Linked DNA regions of Homo sapiens: region 2 is linked to region 1. The links come from fine-mapping of genetic effects on plasma protein levels. Region 1 holds a variant in brackets. A gene starts in the other region. All regions are shown on their forward strands.

Region 1 (5,000 bases):
CCACAAAAAGGGCAAGGCACTGCCCAAAGTCACGTGGCCCCAGGAGTCATGCGCTCGAGGGCTCCTTCAGATTTGGTCTGGGACCCGAGTGGGCCCAGACTCCAGGAGGAGCCCATTCCCCAACAGCTGTGGTGGGTCATGTCTGTGGGGTCCCCCGTCCTAGCCCCGGTCGTCGGGAGGGCGCTGAGCCACACTGAGCCCTGGCCCTACCTCCAGGTGGTCTTTTGGGATCCTGCTATGGGAGATCTTCACCCTCGGGGGCTCCCCGTATCCTGGCATCCCGGTGGAGGAGCTGTTCTCGCTGCTGCGGGAGGGACATCGGATGGACCGACCCCCACACTGCCCCCCAGAGCTGTGAGGCCTCACCCTGCCCTCGACCCCACTTTCCAGTCCTCCTCCTCCTCTGCCCTGACCATGGCCTCAGGGTGTGTCCCGGCCAGAAGGACAACACTAACAACAACTCCTCGTCCTCCTCCTCCTCTTCCTCTTCCTCCTCCTCCTCTTCCTCCTCCTCCTCTTCCTCCTCCTCTTCCTCCTCCTCCTCTTCCTCCTCCTCCTCTTCCTCCTTCTCCTCCTGCTCCTCTTCCTCCTCCTTCTCTTCCTCCTCCTCCTCTTCCTCCTCCTCCTCTTCCTCCTCCTCCTCTTCCTCCTTCTCCTCCTGCTCCTCTTCCTCCTCCTTCTCTTCCTCCTCCTTCTCTTCCTCCTCCTCCTCCTGCTCCTCTTCCTCCTCCTCCTCTTCCTCCTCCTCAGCCTAGTGGAGTGTCCTGGCCTGGCTTCTACTGATGACCCTCCTATCCCTCATCAAACTCCCCACCAAACTCCTCCCCACCCAGAGAACCCCCGGTCCTCCCCTTCCTCCTGAAGGCCTGAGGCTCCCTGTGACCCTCCGCCCCACCTCTCGCAGGTACGGGCTGATGCGTGAGTGCTGGCACGCAGCGCCCTCCCAGAGGCCTACCTTCAAGCAGCTGGTGGAGGCGCTGGACAAGGTCCTGCTGGCCGTCTCTGAGGAGGTACAGCCCCTCCCACCCACCACCTCCCTCTGCCTGCTCCCCTCCAGGCCTCATCTGGCCTGACCGCGTGGACATGCGCCCCGTCCCATCCCGGGCGCTGCAGAGGCTGACCAGCTCCGTTCCCCACAGTACCTCGACCTCCGCCTGACCTTCGGACCCTATTCCCCCTCTGGTGGGGACGCCAGCAGCACCTGCTCCTCCAGCGATTCTGTCTTCAGCCACGACCCCCTGCCATTGGGATCCAGCTCCTTCCCCTTCGGGTCTGGGGTGCAGACATGAGCAAGGCTCAAGGCTGTGCAGGCACATAGGCTGGTGGCCTTGGGCCTTGGGGCTCAGCCACAGCCTGACACAGTGCTCGACCTTGATAGCATGGGGCCCCTGGCCCAGAGTTGCTGTGCCGTGTCCAAGGGCCGTGCCCTTGCCCTTGGAGCTGCCGTGCCTGTGTCCTGATGGCCCAAATGTCAGGGTTCTGCTCGGCTTCTTGGACCTTGGCGCTTAGTCCCCATCCCGGGTTTGGCTGAGCCTGGCTGGAGAGCTGCTATGCTAAACCTCCTGCCTCCCAATACCAGCAGGAGGTTCTGGGCCTCTGAACCCCCTTTCCCCACACCTCCCCCTGCTGCTGCTGCCCCA[G/C]CGTCTTGACGGGAGCATTGGCCCCTGAGCCCAGAGAAGCTGGAAGCCTGCCGAAAACAGGAGCAAATGGCGTTTTATAAATTATTTTTTTGAAATAAAGCTCTGTGTGCCTGGGTCTTCCCTGAGCAACATGGAGTGGGGTGAGGTGGAGGGATCCCTCCAGCAGAGTTCTGCCTACAGGACACGGACTGAGGGCACTGGACCAGGCCATGGGCTCCGCCACCTCCACTGCCCCAGGAGCCAGTGTGTGCCTATCTGGGTCCGCCTGTCCCACCAGCCCCATCTTGTGTCTGCGACAGTGTGAATGAGTATTAATGGGCTGAGTCCGCATTGCACTATACACGGTGGGACTCCTGTACCCTCTGCACATGTGTGTGTGTGCATGTGTGCCCTGCAGCTGTCCCCAAGGGAGCTGGCAGCCCCCCTCCCCCATCTGCTCAGCATTAACCAAGCTGACCGTTAACACAGCATGAAAATCTGAGAGCCAGCCTTAGGCCGCGGCCCGCTCCCACGCTCTGCCGGCTCAGGCTGGGGGCTTGTGGAGGCCATGCCCGCCCCGCCCTGGCCAGTCTCCCGGGCAGCAGCTGGTTGCCGCCCGCCTGGGCTGCAGCTGTCCCTGCCTGCCTGGTCTTCCACTGAGGAGCCGTCACAGCCCTGTACTCAGAGCTCCTCAGAGTGAGCAGCTTCTCAAGGCTCTGAGCCTGGAACCTCCTTCCCTGGCCCCATCCTGGCACGTACTGCTACTCCCCAGCCCCTGAGCCTTGAGTGGGCCATGGGGGGCCCAGGCATGGTGTCTGACCCAGCACTTGGCACTCTCCTGTCCTTTTCCTTACAGGCCTCAGGCTGGGACAGGACTGCCCAACCAGGACAGCCTTCATGGAGGCCATCGGGATTGCCCCCGTCTGCCCCCAGGGAGTGGTGGCTGAAAATGCATATGCGGTCAGAGGGGTCAGACAGAGGGATTGGAGGCTGGGGCCTCCTTGGAAGACTGAGCGTCAGCTCATGATTGTTTATCCTCACTCTGGGCTCCTCCCAGCTCTCAGCATAGCCTCTCCAGCTGACGGTATCCCACACAGAACTCATCTTACCCCCAGAACTGTACCTCCTCCAGGGCAGGAACCAGGGAGTCACCTGACTACTTCCCTCAAGAACCCTGTTCCAGGCCAGGTGCGGCAGCTCACCCCTGTAATCCCAGCACTTTGGGAGGCCGAGGCGGGCGGATCACCTGAGGTCAAGAATTCGAGACCATTCTGGACAACATGGCAAAACCCTGTCTCTACTAAAAAATACAAAAATTAGCCGGGCATAGTGGGGCACACCTGTAGTCCCAGCTACTCAGGAGGCTGAGGCAGGAGAATCATTTGAATCTGGGAGGCGAGGGTTGCAGTGAACCGAGATCGTGCCAGCCTGGGCTAGGGAGCAAGGCTCTGTCGCAAAAAAAAAAAAAAAACAACCCTATTCCCTCATGCGCTTCCACGGTCCAGCGTGGCTCCTGAGGCCAGCACTGCCACCTCTCTGATAATACTGTCTTTGCCCATGAGTAGGGTGCACCTGTCCCGCCTGCCTCCTGGGGCGTAGGGTTTAGGAGGAAGCACGTGCAGATGCACATAGGCTTGGGGGAGGGTGTGATGCGGAGGCCCATGGGTTGGGCTGCGGTGCTTCCCTGGGAGCCGGTGCTGGGGCTTTTGTGTCCCTGAGTGCCCCCCTCCGAGCCCTAGGTATCCAGCCTCCCTTTTGCTCCCTCCCCTGCAGGTGGCTCCAGAGGTAGCTTCCAAAAGCAGACTGGGTTTATGCTCCCTCCTGCTCTCAAAGACCCCCACTAACTCCCGAAAGCCCCCAGACTGACCAACTTTCTTTTTCCTTCCTTCCTTCCTTCTTTTCTTCCTTCCTTCCTTCCTTCTTCCCTCCCTCTCTCTCTTTCTTTCTTTTTCTCTTTCTTTTCCTTCCTTCCTTTCCTTTCCTTTTGCTCCTTCCCTCCCCTCTCTGTCTTCCTTTCTCTCTTTCTCTCTCTCCTCCCTCCCTCCCTCCCTCCCTTCCTTCCTTCCTCTCTCTCTCTCCCTCTCTTTTTCTCTCTCTTCTTTCTTTCTTTCTCTCTCTTTCTTTCTTTTTCTTTTTTTTTTTTTGAGACAAGGTCTTGATCTGTTGCCCGGATTGGAGTGCAGTAATGCCATGGTCATGGCTCTGCTGCCTCAAACTCCTGGGCTCAAGCAACCCTCCCACCTCAGCCTGCCAAGTGTGTAGGACTACAGGTGCATGCCACCATACATGGATAATTATTTTTTAGTTTTTGTAGAGATGGGGTTTTGCTATGTTGTCCAAGCTGGTCTCAAACTCCTGGCCTCAAGCAATCCTCCCACCTTGGCCTCCCAAGGTTCCCAAGCCACTGGACATTCTGACTGAGCCCCTCTCTCCAATGTATAGCCTCCCATTGGGGGGTCACTGTCCACTGACTGTGTCCGCCTGTCCAGCCAATCACAGGAGAAGCAGATCCCTTGGACCTGACCTTGGGAAGGAGAGGACTGGGAGATTAGAATCGTGTGTGAGGACAGTATTCTAAGGGGATGTGGAACAACAGCCCCATTTTCCAATTTCCCACCATGAGCCTGCTGCGGTGCCAGGCTCAACCAACCACGCTCTCCCCTGCCACAGCCTTGCCAAATAAAGATTGTTCTTCCCATTTAACGATGGAGAAACTGAGGTCCAGGGTCACAAGAATGGGGCTCCAGGAAGGAGCTAGGCTGAACCCCAGGTTCCCAGAAGGCCATGTGCACATTGGAGACCAGACCCAGGTCACTCAGAGTGACAGGGGCAGCTGCTGCCTGGTGGGTCCTGGGGGCCGGGAGGGGCTCAGCTGCCCACCCTGCACCCCCTCCCTGCCAGCGTCCCTGGCAGGCACACGCTTCCTGGGGCCATTCCACATTCCTGATGTCCCATGTCAGAATGACACATATACTGCTAATTCCCCTATGCGAGCTCTGATGCTCCAGCTCTCTGCCCTCCCCTCCCCGCTCCCGGCAGCATGGCAGCAGCTGGGGCCTGGCCTCCCTGGTCTGCCTGGGTTCTAGCCTGTGACAGGGGCCCATAGAAAAAGCACTGAGGCCGGGCCAGGCACAGTGGCTCACGCCTGTAATCCCAGCACTTTGGGAGGCTGAGGTGGATGGATCACGAGGTCAGGAGATCGAGACCATCCCGGCTAACATGGTGAAACCCCGTCTCTACTAAAAATACAAAAAATTAGCCGGGCATGGTGGGTGCCTGTAGTCCCAGCTACTTGGGAGGCTGAGGCAGGAGAATGGCATGAACCCAGGAGGCGGAGCTTGCAGTGAGCGGAGATGGCACCACTGCACTCCAGCCTGGGCG
Region 2 (5,521 bases), not on the chromosome of region 1:
CAAGTGCCTTACATGTACTGGCTCATTCGTTTCTATATTCCAGAGAAAACCATTTGGTTCAGTGTATTAACTCGTTTAATTCTCACAATAATCCATGAAGTGCATATTATTATTATGCCTTTTCTTAAAGAGGAAACTGAGGGCAAGTTACACAGCTATATTTAAACTCAGGCAGTCTGCCTCTAGAGGCTCAATCTCTCTTTTTTTTTTTTTTTTTTTTTTTTTTTTTTTTTTTTTTTTAGACAGAGTTTTGCTCTTGTTGCCTAGGCTGGAGTGCAATGGCGCGATCTCGGCTCACTGCAACCTCCACCTCCCGGGATCAGGCAATTCTTCTGCCTCAGCCTCCCGAGTAACTGGGATTACAGGCATGTGCCACCATGCCCAGCTAATTTTGTATTTTTAGTAGAGATGGGGTTTCACCATGTTGGTCAGGCTGGTCTCGAACTCCTGATCTCAGGTGATCCAGCCGCCTCGGACTCCCAAAGTGCTGGGATTACAGGTGCGAACCACTGTGCCGGGCCTCAATCATCTTTTTTTAGAGGTGAGGATAGTCTCACTATATTGCCCAGGCTGGTCTCAAAACTCCTGGCCTCAAGCAGTCCTCCCCACTTAGCCTCCTAAGTAGCTGGGATTATAGGTGTGAGCCACCTCATCTGGCACAGAGACCAAACTATTAACCACTCTGCTTCTCATTCATATGTGATACTTCAAATATTTAAAACATTTATTTATTTATTTATTTATTATTTTTTGAGACAGAGTCTCATTCTGTCACCCAGGCTGGAGTGCAGTGGTGCAATCATGGCTCACTACAGTCTTGACCTCTTGGGCTCAAAGCAATCCTCCCACCTTGGCCTTCTAAAGTGCTGGGACTACAGGCATGCACAACCACACCCGGTTAGTTTTTAATTTTTTTTGTAGAGATGGGGCCTTATTATGTTCCCCAGGCTGTAAAACATTAAATTTTTTACAGGTTATTTGGAGGCTATCGATTTGGTACAATATTTCTTTCTGTATGTGCATGTATTTCTTTCTGTATGTTTATCTTTATTCCAGAATCATGCTGAAGGTAGTCTATGCCTTTGCTATTTTCTTTTTCAGGTTTTTCTTTCCTTTTTAAAAATAAATATTGCCTATTCTTCAAGGGAACTTTCATAATAATTTTCTCTTTTTTTTTTTTTTTTTATTTTGAGACCGAGTCTTGCTCTGTTGCCCAGGCTGGAGTGCGGTGGTGCGATCTCAGCTCACTACAACCTCCACGTCCCAGGTTCAAGAGATTCTCCTGCCTCAGCCTCCCAGGTAGCTGGGATTACAGGTGCCCACCACCGTGCCCAGCTAATTGTATTTTTAATAGAGACGGGGTTTCAACATGTTGGCTAGGCTGGTCTCAAACTCCTGACCCCAAGTGATCTGCCTGCCTTGGCCTCCCAAAGTGGTGGGATTATAGCCATGAATCACTGTGCCTGGCCTTTCGTAATAATTTTCTTGAACTAAAATTTGGGATTAGGCCAGGCATGGTGGCTCACACCTATAATCCCAAGCACTTTAGGAGGCCGAGGCAGAAGGGCTGTTTGAGCCCAGGAGTTCAGGACCAGCCTGGGGGACATAGCTAGACCCCACCTCTACCAAAAAATCAAAAATCAGCTGGGCATGGTGGCATGTGCCTGTTGTCCCAGCTACTTGGAGGCTGAGGAGGGAGGATTGCTTAAGCCTGGGAAGTTGAGGCTGCGGTGAGCTGTGATGACACCACTGCACTCCAGCCTAGGCTACAAAGCAAGACTCTTATTAAAAATTAATTAATTAATTAAAAAATTAGAGATTAGAGAATTTTAGTTAAGTTAAATAAATAAAATAAAAAATAAAATTAGAGATTAGAGGATTTTAGTTAAGTTAAATGTATTAAATTGAAAAGTATTTCATTTTTCCATCCACAAAGTGCTATATTTTCTCATTCAAGTCTTCTCTCAAATCTACCAATACATTTTTGCAATTTTCCTAAAATAGGTAACATTTATTAAGATTGTTCTTAGATGCGTTATAATTTTGTGGAGAAGTGTAATTTCTTATTGTGTTTTCTAATTCTTTACTATTGGTATGTAGGAATGCTATATACTTGTATATGTTATTTTTCTTGATATATGAGATTATAAAATTACCACACAAAAACTCTAAAAATAGAAAAGCTATATACCTTATTCAATAATGTTCAAAACATTCAGAAAAGATTTGGGTCAATATGAAAGGCTACACGGAAAATAATGTGATTTTAATCCAGTGTTTACATATGTGTTAGTTACACATTCAAACTCTTGTCACCGATGCATTTTCATCTAATTTTTTCCATAATGAGAGAGAAGGAGACGCGTTGGTGACTGCAATAGGGCCACCTCCCTCAAATTACGTTGCTCTCTATGACCCATCCTCAGTCTCCCAGTTCAAGCTAATCATTGACAGAGCTTTACAATCACAAGCTTTTACTGAAGCTTTGATAAGACAGTCCAGCAGTTGGTGGCAAATGAAGCCAGGCTGTGCGGCAGGATCTCCAGGGAATGAATGGATTTTCTTCAGCACTGATGAAATAACCACACGCTATAGGAATACAATGTCCAACGGGGGATTGCAAAGATCTGTCATCCTGTCAGCACTTATTCTGCTACGAGCTGTTACTGGATTCTCTGGAGATGGAAGAGCTATATGGTCTAAAAATCCTAATTTTACTCCGGTAAATGAAAGTCAGCTGTTTCTCTATGACACTTTCCCTAAAAACTTTTTCTGGGGTATTGGGACTGGAGCATTGCAAGTGGAAGGGAGTTGGAAGAAGGATGGAAAAGGACCTTCTATATGGGATCATTTCATCCACACACACCTTAAAAATGTCAGCAGCACGAATGGTTCCAGTGACAGTTATATTTTTCTGGAAAAAGACTTATCAGCCCTGGATTTTATAGGAGTTTCTTTTTATCAATTTTCAATTTCCTGGCCAAGGCTTTTCCCCGATGGAATAGTAACAGTTGCCAACGCAAAAGGTCTGCAGTACTACAGTACTCTTCTGGACGCTCTAGTGCTTAGAAACATTGAACCTATAGTTACTTTATACCACTGGGATTTGCCTTTGGCACTACAAGAAAAATATGGGGGGTGGAAAAATGATACCATAATAGATATCTTCAATGACTATGCCACATACTGTTTCCAGATGTTTGGGGACCGTGTCAAATATTGGATTACAATTCACAACCCATATCTAGTGGCTTGGCATGGGTATGGGACAGGTATGCATGCCCCTGGAGAGAAGGGAAATTTAGCAGCTGTCTACACTGTGGGACACAACTTGATCAAGGTACTGTACAGCTAGCTTCTTCTTATAGCTTCAGAAAACACTAAGAATTTAAGAATTTACCTTCTGCCTCAGTAATTCTCTTCACTGAAATCAAGGCAACTGATTTTAAGCTAATTCAAAAGATCTATCCTCAAATTTTGCATTTAAGTTAGTGTATGTTTTATTTATCTAAGGTATTTTTAATGTATTAATCCAATTAGTTTTTTCAAAAGTTGCACTTTGAGGCTATTTTTAAATCTACCATTATACACTACAGTGTGAATATATGAGCTTACTTTCATTCTGTGGGAAAACAGTGCTTCATAAATTTAATTGTTGGAACCCTTTTCTGACAACATGCAATCATTTCAGAATTATCTTAAGGCACAACCATTTCAAATATGTATTTGTTGTTAAGTATAGCTAACTTAGCTAATAAGTAAATAAAGTAAGTAAATAAGTAAGCCAAATAAATGTTAGCTAACTCATGCATATTAAATACAGAAATTTAAATATACTTCACTTTTGATTTTATTTGTGTTACATAGCAAAAAAGAGAAGATTAATTGTTATGGGAGCTAAACACATTTCTTCCCATAAGAACTGGGAAGAATGTGCTCTACTAAAGCAATTTTCAAGCAATATATTTCAAAAGCTAGAGATAATGTTGAGAAATGTTAAAATTAGTAAAACAATAGTGAAAATACAAGCAAAATAATAGGTAATAATTACTGAGTACTTATTATGTACCACAGACTACATTAAGTATTTTACATGCATCGTTACAGTTGATCCTCTTAACAGCCTTTTGAACTAGTTTTATTATTCTTCCCATTTAAAAGATGAGGAAACTGAAGCTTAATGAGATTAAATAATTTTCCCAAGGTTAAGGAGTAAAATACAGCTGTTGTGGACATGGATTTTTTAAATGACAACATAATTAACACTAACTGTCTTCATTAAGAATGCTTTGAAAAGAAGACTCAGGAATTTGCAAGAGATTTAGCCTCACATTGAGGCTAATATCTAGAATCGAATTTAACTTTTTGAGTCAAATAGTTTACTTAGGAAAAATAAATTATTCTGCACACCTGTTACATTTTAAAAATGAAAAAACTTTATCAATATAATTTTATAATGTGCTACAAAAAGTAATTTAATTATTAATAATCAAAAGCTAAATATACAGAAGTAGAAAAAAAATACAGCAACATAAAATAATTCCATGTCTAAATTTGTACATACAAAAATATCTGCTATCACTTCTTTTCTTTTTGAACTTTTCTGGATTATTACACATGTGCATTGTACTATGGTTTCAGATACATCTGCCCTTGAGGTAAACAGATTGCATTATGATTTCAAGGTCATTTGCATATCTTTGACTAGAGTTGTATATAGAACATATTAATGTGTGGGTATACTGTGATTTGACAAAATAAGACCTTAAAGGGTAGAAATTGTATAGGTATTTAACAGTTATCAAGATTATGCATACAAAAGTTAGAAAAATATTCCTCTCATTTAGTCCTTTTAATTTTCTTTTTTTTTTTTTTTGAGACAAAGTCTCACTCTGTCACCCAGGCTGGAGTGCAATGGCGCAGTCTTGGCTCACTGCAATCTCCACCTCCCAGGTTCAAGCAATTCTCCTGCCTCAGCCTCTTGAGTAACTGGTACTACAGGCACATGCCACCAGCCCAGTTAATTTTTGTGTTTTTAGTAGAGAGGGGTTTCACTATGTTGGCCAGGCTGGTCTCCAACTCCTGACCTCATGATCCACCTGCCTCAGCCTCCCAAAGTGCTGGGATTACAGGTGTGAGCCACTGCGCTCAGCCAGTCCTTTTAATTTTTAAAACAATTCATGCTCATGTACATTTAAAAATATCAGATTGGGCCGGGCACAGTGCCTCATGCCTGTAATCCCAGCACTTTGGGAGGCCAAGGCAGGTGGATCACAAGATCAGGAGTTTGAGACCAGCCTCGCCAACATAGTGAAACCCTCTCTACTGAAAACACAAAAATTAACTGGGCGTCGTGGCACGTGCCTATAGTCCCAGTTACTCGGGAGGCTGAGGCAGGAGAATCCCTTGAACCCGGGAGGCAGAGGTTACAGTGAGCCGAGATCACGCCACTGCACTCCAGCCTGGGCGAGAGTGAAACTCTGTCTCAAAAAAATAATAAATAAAAAATAAAAATATCACA

Which allele goes with the higher level. Alleles are on the strand shown, and positions count from the first base shown. The strength of an association depends on the size of the effect and on how common the allele is.
In carriers of allele C in region 1, the plasma level of the protein whose gene starts at base 2,496 in region 2 tends to be lower than with G alone (moderate association).

The links. PIP is the chance, under the fine-mapping model, that this variant and not a neighbour inherited with it causes the effect. Protein levels are from antibody-based Olink assays in UK Biobank. Linkage for the fine-mapping came from a reference panel and not from the study's own genotypes, which makes the PIPs less certain.
Region 2: it holds the start of KLB, and the variant in region 1 is fine-mapped to the plasma level of the KLB protein (UK Biobank, PIP above 0.99).

What each region holds. Positions count from the first base shown.
Region 1 is chr5:177,096,388-177,101,387 of GRCh38, forward strand. FGFR4 (fibroblast growth factor receptor 4) reads left to right here. Exons shown (of 18, transcript NM_213647.3): 16 at 217-354; 17 at 905-1,010; 18 at 1,140-1,757. The coding sequence ends at 1,289. Among named protein-coding and RNA genes, the nearest start is that of FGFR4, 12 kb to the left of the region's middle. The variant G/C (reference allele first, on the strand shown) is at 1,641.
Region 2 is chr4:39,404,435-39,409,955 of GRCh38, forward strand. It overlaps KLB (klotho beta), which reads left to right and starts at 2,496. Exons shown (of 5, transcript NM_175737.4): 1 at 2,496-3,340. The coding sequence starts at 2,516.